Linked DNA regions of Homo sapiens: region 2 is linked to region 1. The links come from fine-mapping of genetic effects on gene expression. Tissue or cell type: thyroid. Region 1 holds a variant in brackets; the other region holds the start of a gene. All regions are shown on one strand. Distances are between the middles of the regions.

Region 1 (8,186 bases):
ATAGGACATATATGGCAAGAAGCCATAGGACAATGGGAAGATATCTTTAAAGTACCAAAAGAAAAAATAAATTGTCAAGCTAGGTTTCTATACTCAGTGAAAACACCTTTCAAAAATGGGCTGGGCACGGTGGCTGATGCTAATCCCAGCACTTCGGAAGGTGGAGGTGGGAGGATCACTTGAACCCAGGACTTTGAGATAAGGCAACATAGTGAGGCCCTGTTTCTATTAAATATATATAGGAGGACTAACACTAACTGATTTCAAGACTTACCATAAAATTACAGTGTGATATTCATGTACAGACAAATAATTAACTGGTATTCACCAATTATAATTTGTATTTTTTCCTTTTCAATTGTAATAGATAATGCTGAATATTTTAAAATAAAAAATTTATATTTTAAAGTAAATGATTCTAATTTTTGATTTTATTACATTTACTTTAAATGCATTCATAATAATACATTTAAATGTATATTTTGAACACAATTATTTTATTTTTAATCTTTATATTATTACTATTAATAAATTACGTGAAAATCTTGATTATAAAAACATACCTGATTTTACTGAAATGAAAGCATGAAAAAGAAATGTTACAGAAGACAATATTATACCTCATGAATCACAGATGTTTTATTGATTTTTCATCCAAACATTGACAGCCCAACAAGAGGACCCACAGACATGCAGTATTAATTAAATTCGGTGATTTTAGTCTCGGAGCCGTGGCTTATACCTGTAATCCCAGCACTTTGGGAGACCAAGGCAGGAAGATCACTTGAGGCCAGGTGTTTGAGACCAGCCTGGCCAACATGATAAAATCCCATCTCTGTTAAAAATACAAAAATTAGCCAGGTGTTGGGGCACATGCCTATAGTCCCAGCTACTTGGGAGGCTGAGGCACGAGAATCTCTTGAACCGGGGAGGCAGAGGTTGCAGTGAGCTGAGATCACACCACTGTACTCCAGCCTGGCACAACAGAGTGAGACCCTGTCTCGATAAATAAATAAATAAATAAATAAATAAATAAATAAATAAATAAATAAATTCAATTACTGTTATATTTTGCTATCTTTTATCATATGAAAACCTAGCTCTGCAGGTGCATGTGCACACACACACGTATTTTTTGGTTACTAGGAAGATATGTTTGCCAGCTAGGAAGCTGGGACATAGTTTATGTAATGGGTGGACAGCTTTATTTGTAACCCTTAACTATCAAGACGCCTCCTTTGGGAGGCTCCTTTGCACTCTTGCCCTGGGCTGCAAATGTGAGGGGTGGGGTGTGCCCGGCAGGTGATAGACCCAGGACTTTACCCATGTGTTCTGGCCCCAGGACCCACTGCACCACCCTCCATGGGAAGAGAGAGTGGGGAGAGTGTTTGGGGAGAGTACAGCATGGAGAAGTTTCTGGAAGAGGCTTGCAAATATGCCACAAAAGCTCTGTGGGGCTGGAATTTAATATTGAGGAGGAAATGTTTGATGGGTGAGGGTGGTAAAGAGGACAGATTAAGGGTGTGAGGTCTGCGGGTATTGACTATTTCTCTGGGGACAAAGGGGTGTTATCAGAAGACAGCTTGTAGCCTGGAGCTGAGCAGCCCTTGGGCTCTGATGCCTGTGTTGAAGTGGCTCTCTTTATTTAGCTAACTCCCTACTGCCTTCAGGAATGGAAAGCCAGTGTCACTTGGCAATCTTAAAAATGCATGCTGGGGAAACAAAGCAAGGTGCTACATTTTAATACTTTTGCTGCCAGATGCTGCTAAATTCTGACCCAGCGATTCACTGGTGCTTGAGAGCCGTTGCAGATAGGCTGCACTAGGCTGAGATGATTCTCTTTGATGGTGTCAGAAGAATTGAAAGAGAATTCAAAATGCAAATTTGCTGCTTCCCAAGGTCCACCAAATCATCTTCAGGACCCCAGTGGTACAGTCAGCGTGGTCTGGGAAAGTCTGGGAGAGGGTGCTAGTCCAGTTGGGCAAGCCAGGCTTCCACCACTTGTCCAAACTTACATGCCGGGTATGCTGTTTTCAAAGACAGCCACAATTTCTCCTCTCCCTAGGTCGTGTCACTCCTCCTACCAGGAGGTAGAGGCTGTTTCCCCTCCCCTTGATTCTGGGCTGGCCTTGGAACTGGCTTTGACCAACAGAACGCACCAAAAGTGTTGCAGTGTCAGTTCCAGCCTGGGCTTTAAGAGGCCTGGCTGCTTCTGCCTGTATTCTCTTGGAGCCTTGGGCCACCATACAAGAAGTCAGTCCACCCTGCTCGAGAAAGAAGGTCAGCCAGCCTCCACCCCTTCCAGCCACCCCAGCTGAATGGCCAGCTGAATGCAAACAAATGAGCAATGCCAGCCAAAACATAATGGGTAGCTGCTGTTTTTTTGTTTTTGTTTTTGTTTTTTTAGATGGAGTCTCGCTCTGTCATCCAGGCTGGAGTGCAGTGGCGCTATCTCGGCTTACTGCAGCCTCCGCCTCCCGGGTTCAAGGGATTCTCCTGCTTCAGCCTACTGAGTAGCTGGGATTACAGGCACCCGCCACCACGCCCGGCTAATTTTTGTATTTTTAGTAGAGACGGGGTTTCATCATGTTGGCCAGGCTGGTCTCGAACTCCTGGCCTCAGGTGATCCTCTCAACTTGTCCTCCCAAAGTGCTGGGATTACAAGCGTGAGCCACCACGCCCAGCCTAGCTGCTGTTTTTTTTTTTTTCTACTAACTTGTCATTTACTACAATGGCATTTTAAATGGGGTTCCTAATATATTGGGCTGAAATTTTTAAATGAACATGTAAAGATTCATAGGTAATATGCTGTTTGGTTTACTTGAGTGTAGCTTTCATATTTAAAGTTGATATAAAATAAATTGTGTTTACAGTGGCATTTAAAATGGGGTTCCTAATATATTGGGCTGAAATTTTTATTTTATTTATTTATTTATTTAGAGATGGAACCTCACTCTGTCACCCAGGCTGGAGTGCAGTGGGGTGATCTTAGCTCACTGCAACCTCCACCTCCCAGCTTCAAGCAATTCTCGTGCTTCAGCCTCCTGAGTAGCTGGGAATATAGGTGTGCGCCATACTCAGCCAATTTTTTTTGTATTTTTAGTAAAGACAGGGTTTCACCATGTTGGCCAGGCTGGTCTCGAACTCCTGACCTCAGGTGATCTGCCCACCTCAGTCCTCCAAAGTGCTGGGATTACAGGCATGAGCCACTGCACCTGGCCTGAATTTTTTTTTTTTTTTTTTATTGTTCATTCTTGGGTGTTTCTCGCAGAGGGGGATTTGGCAGGGTCATAGGACAATAGTGGAGGGAAGGTCAGCAGATAAACAAGTGAACAAAGGTCTCTGGTTTTCCTAGGCAGAGGACCCTGCAGCCTTCCGCAGTGTTTGTGTCCCTGGGTACTTGAGATTAGGGAGTGGTGATGACTCTTGACGAGCATGCTGCCTTCAAGCATCTGTTTAACAAAGCACATCTTGCACCGCCCTTAATCCATTTAACCCTGAGTGGACACAGCACATGTTTCAGAGAGCACAGGGTTGGGGTTAAGGTCACAGATCAACAGGATAAGAATTTTTCTTAGTACAGAGCAAAATGAAAAGTCTCCCATGTCTACCTCTCTCTACACAGACACGGCAACCATCCGATTTCTCAATCTTTTCCCCACCTTTCCCCCCTTTCTACTCCACAAAACCGCCATTGTCATCATGGCCCGTTCTCAATGAGCTGCTGGGTACACCTCCCAGACGGGGTGGTGGCCGGGCAGAGGGGCTCCTCACTTCCCAGTAGGGGCGGCCGGGCAGAGGCGCCCCTCACCTCCCCGGGTGGGGCGGCTGGCCGGGCGGGGGGCTGTCCCCCCCACCTCCCTCCCGGACGGGGCGGCTGGCCGGGCAGAGGGGCTCCTCACTTCCCAGTAGGGGCGGCCGGGCAGAGGCGCCCCTCACCTCCCGGACGGGGCGGCTGGCCGGGCCGGGGGCTGACCCCCCCACCTCCCTCCCAGACGGGGCGGCTGGCCGGGGCTGACCCCCCCACCTCCTTCCCGGACGAGGCGGCTGGCTGGGCAGAGGGGCTCCTCACTTCCCGGTAGGGGCGGCCGGGCAGAGGCGCCCCTCACCTCCCGGACAGGTCGGCTCTAGCTGCTGTTTTAAGTCACCACATTTGAAAGTGATTTTTGCACTTTGTAGAGCTTTCCAAGTGTTATTTTTTTACAACACAATGTTCCCCACAACATTCCTATGAGAGTGTTATCTTTTTTTAATATGAAAATTTTATAATAAAATTATTTTAAACATCCCCCGCCCCGGCCATTTGCTAAATTAAATCCATTGACTCATTCTGCTCTAAAAATAAGGGAGACTGTTTGATATGATCATATAAAATTGGTCACGTTCTTGTTTGAAGTTTGAGGAGTTTTTGGCGTAGAAACTGCACAAATAAACATTTCTTTGTTGTAGTTTTTAAATTTTAGTTGACATGTAATAATTGTACATATTTACTGGATACAGAGTGATATTTTGATACATGCATATGATGTGTAGTGATCAAATCAGAATAATTAGCATATCCATCATCTCAATCATTTATCATTTATTTGTGTTATGAGAGTGTTATCTCCAGCTCCACTTTACAGATGAGAAAACCAAGGCTCAGAAGGGTAACCGCTGGATTCCATGAGCTGAGGGATCACGTCAGACTCCCTTTGGGGAAAGCGTCATCTGCTTCCTTTCTCTTGAACTCTCGGCTCCCCTCAGCCTTTTCTGTCTCAGACTCAGGCATCCCGCCCAACATGCTTCTTGGGTCACCAAGCTGACCCTGAAATCCCTCCTCCCTCTGGATTAGCTGGACGCTCTCT[G/CTG]GTGGGTGAGAGGGGAGGGATAAGTTTGACTGTTCAGCATGCTAATATGTCCCCAAGCAAGTCAAGCAGGGTGTCCTCGCTAAGCCACACTGGGACTCCGAGTTGAGCTATATGCAGAACTGGTTGACTAGGGGCCCCTCTGGGCATCTTTTTGCATGAATTTACCAGTGTGCTGGCGGGCATTCCTTCGGAGGCCTCAGAAGAAAAGGGAAGTTTCTGGAGCAGTTGCCTGGGACAGAGGTTCAGATGGAAGGGAAGGCATGAATACAACAGAGGGTGTGGTAGAATCTGAAGTGTCGTTCAATCTCTGGTCCATACTTCCCCGGAAATGTTGGAACACTGAAAGCAGCATTGTTCAAAACTTCCTTTCCATAAGGATTTAGGTAGATAATGTCATACCTTTGGTGGTGTTTGGAAGGCAGAAGCAAAGCAGAGGCCACTTTCTTGCCCCTTTCGCAGCTTTTGTTCCCAGGTGAGGTGGTGGAGATGTGAAGTGTTTCTGCAACAACATTCCAGGATCCATTCTGGAGTTTGCTGGGTGTTGACAGGAGGGTTTGGGGCAGCAGTAGCAGCTTCCTGAGCCCTGGATTGCAGCCATGGGGTGTGTTCTTAAACTTTTAGCTCCAGTGGGGCCTCAGAGGGAGGAGTCCCCTGGTGGGCCCCAGGTGGCTACCTCCTCTTCTGTGGAATGCTGTTCTCTTGAGAGGCTTGGGCGATGTTACACAATTCCGTTAGGAGCCACCTGAGCCTCTCTAATACCTCCTCCTTCTGGATGGCTTCATCTTCCCTCCTCTTGTTCTCTCTGTTCTCTCTCTTTAAGTCCTCTCCCCAAGAGAGCTGCTTGTCTAACTCACCACCTGAGCATTGGGGAACATGTCATTTCTACTCTGTGGGCCTCAGTTTTCTAACCTGTAAAATGATAGGGTTGCAATGAAAGTTCTCTTCTAGCTTGAACCTGCAATGATTCATTCCACAAATGTGTAATTGCAGTCCGCCAGGTTCTGGGCTAGGTGGTGGGCCACAGGATGAAGGGGTCTGGTCCCTGTCCTAGTGGCTCTCACCTTCTGGAGGACACACAGATGAGTAAGCACGGAATGACAACCCAGAGAGCTCCGGACCGGGTTGAGAGCATCATCAGTTGGTTCCACTGAGCTTACTAAGAAAGGCAGGAGCATCCTGACTGCCCCTGCCTCTCCTGCCTGCTCCCTAGACACAGCCACTTTCAGTTCTTCTAGAGGATTCTTTTGATTTTCAGCATCATATGGGTTGAAAAGAGACTTGCATTGCTACTTTTTGATTTTTCAGTTTCAGGTACTCATTAAGCCCACACTCCATGAGACGTGGATTCAATCCCTTTCACCCGCTCACCCCCTTGTAACCTTCCCCCAGCAATCCCTGCCTGTCTCCCCTACTCCCAATACGGTTACACCATCCTTTTGGTTAAATTAGGATTCTGTGTTTTCATTATTAAGACTAACTGTCATGTACAGCTAAACCACATAGTATGTTATTATTACTTTTCCTTCAACATTTTGCTTAGTTCTCTTTATTATCATATTAGGGATTCAACCCCAAATCGTCCCCATAGTACACTAGATCTCACCAGTGTGTTCACATGTCAGGCATTCTGTGAGTTTCATCTTCTGCGGGAACTCCCTTCCAGAGCCTTTGCCTTCTTTGTTCTGGCCTCGTAGCTCTTTCCTCCCGGGTTGGGGTCCTCTAACCTCTTCCTTATGCCCATCCTCTGCTTCCCTTTTCTTGTTTTTGGTGGAACACATCCTTCACCCCCCTATTGTGAGAAGTGGTGAGTGGAGCTGCATTTTGGGAATTTGCATGTCTCAACATGTTTTTATCCTGCACTTAATTAATAGTTTGGCAGAGCATGGCATTTTAGCTTGGAAACAATTTTCTCTTAGAGCTTCAAAGGCAATGTTCCATTATTTTCTATGACAGTGTTGTACATTCCAATACTGTTTTTAATGTGCTCCAGGTGTTTGTAGGATCGTCTCTTGTCTGCCATGTTCTGAATTCCTTGATGATGTGCTTTGGTGAAGGTACATTTTTACACACACTTTGACCCATTCAGTTAGACAAGATAGAAACTCATGTTGATCAATTCTGGGGCATGGTTTTAAGTTACTTAGGAGTTTTCTCTTTCCTGATTCTCTCTTTATAGGCCTCCTATTATTTAGATGTTGGACCTCCTGAACTGGTCCTCTAATTTTATTTTTTCTCTTCTGTTTCCGTTTGCTGCTGTTTTATTTGCTGTACTTTGTGGAAAATCTCTTTGACTTCCAGCCTTCCTGCTGTAGTTTTCATTTCTGCTATCATATTTTTAATTTCTTTTTTTTTTTTTTTTTTTTTTTTTGAGACGGAGTCTCGCTCTGTCGCCCAGGTCGGACTGCGGACTGCAGTGGCGCAATCTCGGCTCACTGCAAGCTCCGCTTCCCGGGTTCACGCCATTCTCCTGCCTCAGCCTCCCGAGTAGCTGGGACTACAGGCGCCCGCCACCGCGCCCGGCTAATTTTTTGTATTTTTAGTAGAGACGGGGTTTCACCTTGTTAGCCAGGAAGGTCTCGATCTCCTGACCTCATGATCCACCCGCCTCGGCCTCCCAAAGTGCTGGGATTACAGGCGTGAGCCACCGCGCCCGGCCCATATTTTTAATTTCTAAGACCTCATTTTGTTCTTGGAATGTTCATTTTTGTAACTTCATCTTATTTCATGAATGCGATATCACATCTCCTTAAGAATAAGTGATTTTTAAGTTTTCCTCTATCTGCTTAGTAATATCCTCTGTGTTGCTTTTTGTCTGTTTTTATTTCTGTTTTTCATATTAGGTGTTCTACTCATATCTCTGTTGGTCCTTGCATTTTTATTGAAGAATAGGATTCTAAAAGCTCTGTGTCTGCGAGTGGGCCTTGCTGACCTGACCTTTGGGAACCCTTGATGTCTATGGCTCTCAATCCCCCTGGAGTGTCCCTGCTTCAACCACATCAGTATCTCCCAGCCCAAAGACCCTCTACCCCTCCAGAATATTCATCTCCCATCATCTGCCATGGTATGGGGAGGAGAAGAGGCCTGCCTGTACGGAGTGGCAGAGTGGGGTAGGGGGTCTGGAGGACTCACTACTCCCTAAACTGACTTTCAACCAGTTTGCCTGATTTTTCTTTTTTTCTTTTAAAAAAAAATAGGCTTGTCAGAGCATGGTGGCTCACGCCTGTAATCCCAGCACTTTGGCAGGCCGAGGCAGGTGGATCACCTGAGGTCAGGAGTTTGAGACCAGCCTGACCAACATGGTGAAACCCCGTCTCTACCAAAAATACAAACATCAGCTGG
Region 2 (8,142 bases), 22 kb before region 1:
TCACACCCTCAGCAAGGACTCTGTGGGTTCTCTCTGCTTGCCATCCACCAAGTTGAGGGGTGGTCCTGGACCAACAGGGAGTAGGGGGGAACCTCTTTCCGGTGGGATGGTTTCAAGCCTGCACAGTGCCCATGGGAGTTTCAGCCAAAAAATCCCTGGCTGGTGTGGAGAGAGGCCTGTGTTCCAGAGCTCCACGGCCTACTGCCTTAAGTTTAGCCCTCGTCATTGTCTTTGTGGACCGTGGATCTGGGCTTCCCACTTGGAACTCTGACCGTCTCTGGAGAGGGAAGGCCAGAACCTCATATGGTCAGAGAGTGGTGGCTGGAACCCCACACCTCAATCTTTCCTTGGCTTGGCATTCAAGGCCTCAGTCCGGACCTTCAATCTATCAATGTACCAGGATCCTGTGTTCCACGCAGACCGGCCTCCCCATGGTCTGGGCCATTGCCGGATCTTCTGACCAGTCCACCCATGCTTATATTATTCCTGTTGACCAGAAGATCCTACCCCTCCCACTCTCCAAACCCAACTCATCCTGGACCAAGCTCAAACTTCACCTCTTCCTCTAGACAGCTTTCTCTGACCCAGTTGCTAAGAATTTAGCTCCAGTGTTCCCTCTTGTTAATTACAATTTGCTAGTGAAATCCCGGCTTCTCAACCAGACTACAGCCCTCCCAACTCACTCCCTTGGAGTGGTGTCCATATTCATCTCTGCATCCCCAGGGGGCACTCGGCAAATGCCTACTGGGGAGTACTTTCTGGAGTTTGGAATGCCCCTGTCAGGGGAAGGAGAAAGAGAAAGAAATGAAGACTAGGGGTGGCACCTGGACCTGAACCCCAAGAAAGTCAGAGAGGGTGGACTCCTTTGATGCACACATGGTTGATGCGAATCCAATGGTCACACTCCCAGGCCACCAAGCTGAAAACTAAAGAGGGCCTGAGCTGGCCAGTTAGTCTGGGACAAGTTGGTTTTATTTTAGGTCTGAAGGTTCCAAATCCCCAGGAAATTCAATTTAGAACCATGAACAGGAATGTGACGCCCCAATGCTGGGCAAAAATGTGCCTGTGGGCTAGGGAGCCAGGCTCCCGGGGCTCTCAGGGGTGGGTGGGGAGGAGGCCACTAGGAGAGCCAAGGGTGTGGGGGCTTGGCCACCTGCCCCTACCAGATCTGCCCTGAGTCCCCTTGTGCCCTGTCTGCATCTGGGGTGGCTGAGGGAGGAGGCCGACTTGCTCCCTGGCTGTCCTGCCAGCAGAGCCCCTGGGGCAGCGCTGTGGCCTTGCTGTTCTGTCAGCACTCAGGGAGTAAAGCGTGGGGGATTCTGGTCTCAAATTCAGGCATCTGTGGGGTTTTGGCTGGGTCTCCTGCGGTTTGGGCTTCCTGGGCAGCAGGCTCATTCTCCCAAGGCGGTGGCAGAGCGAAGCCTTGAGTTATGAAAGCCGCATTGTCTGGCCCAGCCCAGGCTGGGGAGGGGGTCTGCTGGGGTGCTGGGGGGCCTCAAGTTACAGCCCAGAGCTTAACCCTCCCAGTTGCCCACGCTGGCCCCGGTTGTGTGCAGTTAGCCCTCTCCTCTTGCTGCTGGAGCTGAGAATGGCTTCAACAAGGAAGGGGATCTTGGAAGGAGGTAGTGGAGGGAGAGCAGAGAAAATGGATAAGGGGAGGGAGAAAGCTGGAGAGAGTAAGAGGATGGGAGAGCAGGAGGCTGAGGAAGGGAGGAGGCAGGAAGGAGGCCCAGCGGGACAGGGAAGGTTCCCAGACACAGAGAAGGACCCTTCCAAGTGCCCTGCCCCCAGCTGTCCCTCCGGGCTGAAGGAGTCCAATTCTTGGAGGCGCTCATCCTGCAGAAGGCCCCGTTGCAGGGGCCCCACAGAGACAGCAGGCAATTTGAGGCTTGGCCAAGATGGGCTGTAGACACACTGGCCTCATCTATGTGCTGGCTGTTGGCCAGACATCTTCCACTTGTCCTCACTCTGGTTTAGAGGACCCCCCACCTCCACAACTAGGCGTCCATACCAAGTAGGTGGGGAGTGGAGAGGGGCCTCCTAGAACAGGCAGGCAGGCCGGCTTCGAGGGCGCATGTGGAGGCTCAGGCCAGAGAAGGGAAGGAGCTTGTCCAAGGCAAGGCAGGGAGTTCGTGTCAGAGGTTCAGGAACAGACCTTCATTATTCAGAGTCAAAGAGGGGAAAGGGGGAATGGCGCTGGTGGGGAGGAAGGCAACGACTTAGACAGTGGAGATTCCAATTATGAAATCCGGGTCCACACTCCTGCACGCGGTTCCCCTGGCCCTGAACACATCCCAGAGGTTCCTGACTTCTCCTTGACCCGGACTTCCATTTGGGAGCTTCGGCTTAGGCATCTGGCCAGTGAGGGGAAGGGACTGAGAACCAGGGCCGGCGAGGCCCCTACTCCAAACCCCTTCAGGGAGTCACAAACCGTACTTGGCGTGAGAGGCTCCCCCAGGAATCGCGGGTAGGTTACAGACGGCGCCAGGCGCGGGACGGGGCATTTCACTTGGGCTGAAGACACTGGGTTGGGGTGCGTGTGTGTGCACAGGGCAGGGGCGGCGGGGACTGGCCGGCACGAGAGGGAAGGAAGGCGAGGGAGAAGGGATGGCAAGAAAGAGGGGAGGGGCTGGGTCCTGCAGCCGCTCGCGGCAGACAAAAGTTTTCGGGAAGCGCTGGGCTCTGGTTGGGCTGGGGGAAGGGAAGTAGAGAAAGATTCAGACAACGCCCCCTCCCCCACACCAGGCCCCCACAAATATTTACACACTGGGCAGAAACAGTTGAGACACAAATCCCAGACGGACAGACACCGCGGAGTGTATGTGTGTGTGTTTGTGTGTGTGTGTGTGTGTGTCTGGTGTCGGGAGTTGCGGGGAGTTGGAGCCAACTTGGCGCAGCCGCAGCCTCTGTTCAGGGCCCTGCCTCCCTCGCCCAGCCCCCTACTCTCCTTGGACCAAGTCCTCAAACCCAGACTTTTCGTCCCTACCCCCACCAAGCTCCCTGGAACGGTCTCCCCGCGTCTGGGGACGGAGAGGAGAACTAATAACTGGCCCCTTCAGCCGCCCACCCGCCCCTGTCCAGCTTCGCTCGCCACTCCCGGTCCTACCTGGGCCCGGGGCTGCGCTGGGGGCTCCATAGGGCGCGTCGCAGCCAGAGGGGCGCTGGCCGCTCACCTGGTACATCGGCCCCGGACCTGCGGAAAACAGGGCTCAGCGGGCGGCGCCGGAGGCGGGCAAGGGGCGATTCCCCCGCAGATGCGCGCCTCCCACGTCCACTCACTCGTGCGAGCCGTGCTACGCTCTCTTCCAGCCGGATCCCCGCGCGGGGCCCGCCATGCGCGCCTGCTCCGGGCGCCCCTGCCCAGGTCCCGCTGGCTCCCGGGTGCTCGCCTGGCGCCCCTTCCCCTCTCACTCGCTGCTTTCTCCCATTTCGGCGCCAGCTCACGCCGTTCGCCCCTTCCTTCTTCCTTCTCTCCCTCCAGCCCCCCTCGCTCCTCCCCTACTCGCCTCTCCCCTCCCCTCTTCCCTGGCCCACCCTCTCCCCGCCCCCTCCTCGCCTTCTCAGTCGCCCCTCTGCGGGTCCCCTCCCCCGCGCCGGGCTTGGCCCAGCCAGGAGCCGGACACGTCTGTCCGCGGGGCGCCCGAGGCCCGAGCCCCCACAGGAAGCCGGCTGGGCGCGCTTCCTCCGCGCTCTCGGAGCGGGGCCTCAGTCTCCCCGACTCCCTGCTCTCTGAGGCCCGGAGATCCGCGGGCTGCACGTTTTCCTTTGCCTGTCCAAACTCTGCAAAAGTTTCTGGAAAATCAGGAGAAAGAGAGAAACCTCAACCACTTCGTGGAACTGTCTGAATAATTGCGGCCTCCAAATCTCTTTGCCCCAAAGATGGGCGCGATCAAGTTTCTCAGTCACGTTTTACCCACCCCCTCGGTCTCCTCCCGGGGTCCTAAGCCAGGGACAGGGATCTGGGCTCCCAGGCCACCCGCCCACAGCGCCAGAGTTGTCTGTCCGGGAAATCCGGTTAGTGACCAACCAGCCTGCCCTGTGCCGCAGCAGCCCAGAGCATCCTCGACCCTCCTGCCCCTACCAGCTGTGCGTGGGAATGTGTGTCAGAAAACCGACTTTGGGGGCAAAGAGAGGTCCTCCGAATTCAGCCCTTCTTTGGGATCCAGACTGAATCCGAGGGCTTCTAAGATGAGGGTTCGGGGAGAAAGGGGAGGGAGGGAGCCTCTCCCGGTGGGGCCAGCCGGGCGGCGCGTCTGGATGGTGAGCCGTGGTGGTAGGAAGAAGCCGCTGCCAGGCAGTCCAAGAGGGTTCAGGGGCCCTCAGCGCGACCCCGGAACCTGGTCCCCGAGAATGGGGAAGACTTTGGAGCCTGCGGCTCTCCAGGTGGGGCTGGGCGGGCCCGTGGGATGATGCTCAGGTGGGGCAGCCCCCTGGGGTGACAGCGTCTCGGCCGTACTTGTCTAGGGCCGCCTAGGAGCCGCGTCTGGGCTCCCCGCCACGAGGGCCAGTGAGCACACTGGAAGGCAGCGGCGGCACCAGGCCACCTTTTCTAGTCCCGAGTCCAGCCGGGTCTGGAAGTGGAGAGCTGGGACGCAGGAGGCCGGGCGTCCCAGCTCCCCACTTCTTGGACTCTCCTAGCCCCCATAGTCGCTACTTACGGCTATCGCAGGTCCTGGGGCGCCGTCGGGGCCAGGACCGGGATGGCCCCCACGGCGCCGGCAGCGCTCTCGGCACCCGCGGCCACGTCCCAGCGATGGGCTGGGGTGGTTGCGGCCCGGAGGAAGGTGGGGCGGGACAAGAAGAGAGTGTTCCGCCCCCCAGGCCGGGCTGCTAGCCGCGGGGGTCTGTCCTAGTGCCCCAGGAGCCGGCCGGGATCCGGCTGCTGTCCGGGAGCTCTGGAGAGCTGAGCCAACTCCCGCTTCCTGGCACGGGCTGAGTCACCCGGACGGGACGCGCCCGCGCCTGGGCCTGGCGGCTGCTGCATTCTTACCTGCTTACCTGGGCGCGCACGCTGGGCCTCACCCACCTCCGAAGGCAATCCTCACCGTCTCTCTCCGTTTCCTCCCGCGTATAGGGCCCCCTCCCGAACCCCAGACCTCAGTGCTGCACCCCTCCCCCTGCTTTCTCGTCTCAATCCAGGGCCCCTAAACTCTGCATCAGCTCAGTCCCGGAGCCTTACTATTCCAAGTCGCCTGCTTGATCTCAAAAGTCCTCTGAATCTGGCCCAGTACTAATGTCTGTTTTGTTGGAAATGTAAATTATGCTTTAAATTTAATCACGCATGCTGGTTATACAGGTGTGCTCATTTTGTAAGGATGCAGCAAGCTGAACATTTATGATGCAGGCACTTGTTTGTATGACTATTATACTTGAATAAAAAGTTTTTAAAAATCAACACATTAAAATCAACATTCCAGTTCAGAGCATGATAGGATATGATGGCCAGGCTGGAGGCCTGGCATGGGAGCCCAGTTTCCAGACCCACCATCTACTATATTTCTTTGGGGAAATCCCTTTGCCTCTCAGCCTCAGGAGGGATGAGCACTGGGGCCCAGGACCAGGACTGGGGTGAGGTAAGTGAGACACTCACCTGGTGTGCAAGATTTCGGGGATGCCAAGATAAGGAATTTTTTTTTTGGAGGCAGGATTTTGCTCTGTCCGCCAGGCTGGAGTGTGGTGGTGAGATCTCAGCTCATTACAATCTCCACTTCCCAAGTTAAAGCAGCTGGGACTACAGGTGCTTGCCACCACACCTGGCTAATTTTTTTTAGTAGAGACGGGGTTTTACCGTGTTGGCCAGGCTGGTCTGGAACTCCTGACCTCAAGTGATCTGCCTGCCTTGGCCTCTCAAAGTGCTGAGATTACAGGCATGAGCCACCGTGCCCAGACTGATGAGGAATATTTTAAGGCAATATTTTAATATACCAAATGGGCAAACTACAGTTCTTTGGGCCAGCTGCCTTGTTTTTTTTAAATAAAGTTGTATTGGAAACAGGACCAGGATTAAGGTAATTAATCACGCAAGTTCAGGGTCAGATCCTGTCTTTATCTAAAATGTTGGCATTTTGTTTATCATAGACTTTTTGGCATTAATTTGGATTTTTATACATATTGCAGGAAAATATTGTTTTATCTTAATTACTGAGTTTTTTGATGCCCCCTTAAGTTTTGAACCTGAGCCAAGTGCCTCATTCACTCCAGGTTTCACATGCCTCACCCTAGACCCGGCCCTGTTATTGTCTCTTCCTGAAGGACCTGTCCAGGAAGCCAGGGTAAATGAGGGGAGATCAAAGGTGTTCCCCCACCCAACACTGTCACACACACACATATGCACAGCACCAAGTGGGCTCTGCACCCAAGCCCAGGCCCAGCTTCCCCGGGGCCCACCGATCAGTTCAGAATAAAGCGCAAAGTCCCTCAGTCTCCATGAACTGGGCCCCACCTGCCTTGGCCCTCATCTCCCCTTACTTATTCCCTGCCAGCCATGCTACTTCCTTTTCTCGGTTAATTTGCCAGGCACCTTCTCGCCTCAGGGCCTTTGCCCTTGCTCTTTCCTCTGCCCAGAATGTGCATCCCCTAGATACCCACATTGGCCCTTTCCTCGTTTCTTCTGCTTATGTCAGCTTCTAAGAGAGGCCGTCCCAGACTTCTCACTCTCTGCCCCCAACACCATTTTATTATTCTACCCAGACTTTTTCAGCACTTGGCCTATTCTATATTTGCTCATCTGTTGGTAGAGTGAAAGGCCCTGAGAGCAGGGACTGGCTTGTCTACTAGTGTATTCCCTAGAGATGTGTCTGCCACAGAGAGTGCAATACATTTTCCAATTTCAGAGGTTGGAAAACAGAGGCCAGAGAGGGGAAAGAGCTAATGCAAGTCATGTAGTGAGTTAGTGGCAAAACCTTACCAAATCCCAACTTTCCAGACTCCCACCTCAGTATTCTTTCCTGCCTTCCAGGGCTTATTCCCCACTCTCCACCCCAGAGCCTTCCAGGCAACAAAGGGGACAGAACTGCCTTGCACGGGCTCTGCCCCTCACAATACCCTTCAAAGTGGAGCAGGCCAGCTCACAACTCCTCCCTTGCAGTTCATTCCGCAAGACCACAAGGTCTGGCCCAGCTCCAGCCTCTGGCGCCCACCCCTCCTTGGTGGCCAGCAGAACGCACAGCTCTTCCCCCACTTCCTGTCTCTGGCAGAGGGCCAGTCTGCTGGGCTGGCTTCTGCAGCTGGACCACAACTGTGGTCTCAGTGCCTGGAGAATGGGGTCAGGACACTGGGAGAATGGGACCCTCCCGGAAGAGGGATGCATAAATTGGGGCGTGTTTGTGTGGGGTGAGGAGAAGCTGCTGGGTGGGGATTGAGAGCCCCCAGCTCTTTCTTTCTACCCCCATCTCGGATGGGCACTGAGCAGAGAATGGGGCTCTAACCCTCCCCCTTCCTGAAGAAAAGAATGTGCAGTAGGATGAAGGGTGCTCTGGGCCCCATGCCTGATTCTAGCCCTCCCTGCTACCCCTGGTGATGGAGGATGACGGTGGCGTGTCAATTTCAGCGGTCATGTGTTGAGCGTGTTCTATATGACGAGCCTTTGCCAGATACTTCTAGATTTGTTATTTCCTTTAATGCCTACAACAGTCAGCATAGTTATTAACCCCATTTTACAGATGAGGCAACTGAGGTACAATGAAGTGATGTGAAGAGACTTACCCACTAGTAATGGGTGGAGCTGGGACTTGGACCATGTTTTCTGAAGCCAAACACAGCACTCACCCCAATCCCAGGCATGGCCTTCAGCGTGTAGAAAGGACTGTGATGTTCTCTTTCATGTGCTGCCCCCCTCCCCAAGCTAGTTGCTGAAGATAGGGACATGGCCCTCTGCATCCCTCCTCTGTCTCATTGTGTTGGGGTACCAGGAACTTGGCAGGGTATATAGGAAGAATGGGGCTTGGATCTGTGTCATGGAGACCAAATTTGCATCCTGGCTCAATCACTTCTACCACCCTATGTGATTTTGAGCAAATCACTTGAACTCTCCAAGCCTTTAGTTCTCCTGTTTAAACGTGGCAAAGGCGTTGGCTGTCAGCAAATGGGAACTCTTGCCCACCACGTCCCTCCCCAGGGGAGGGAAGCTTCAAAGGGCAACAT

What was found. PIP is the estimated chance that this variant, and not a neighbour inherited with it, causes the effect.
Region 2: it holds the start of MDFI, and the variant in region 1 is fine-mapped to the expression of MDFI in thyroid (GTEx, PIP 0.92).

What each region holds. Positions count from the first base shown.
Region 1 is chr6:41,612,237-41,620,422 of GRCh38, reverse strand. No RefSeq gene overlaps it. Among named protein-coding and RNA genes, the nearest start is that of MIR4641, 18 kb to the right of the region's middle. The variant G/CTG (reference allele first, on the strand shown) is at 4,848.
Region 2 is chr6:41,633,790-41,641,931 of GRCh38, reverse strand. MDFI (MyoD family inhibitor) reads right to left here and starts at 3,464. Exons shown (of 5, transcript NM_005586.4): 1 at 3,280-3,464; 2 at 3,107-3,193. The coding sequence starts at 3,182. RefSeq lists enhancers at 811-1,391, 6,685-7,185, 7,186-7,686.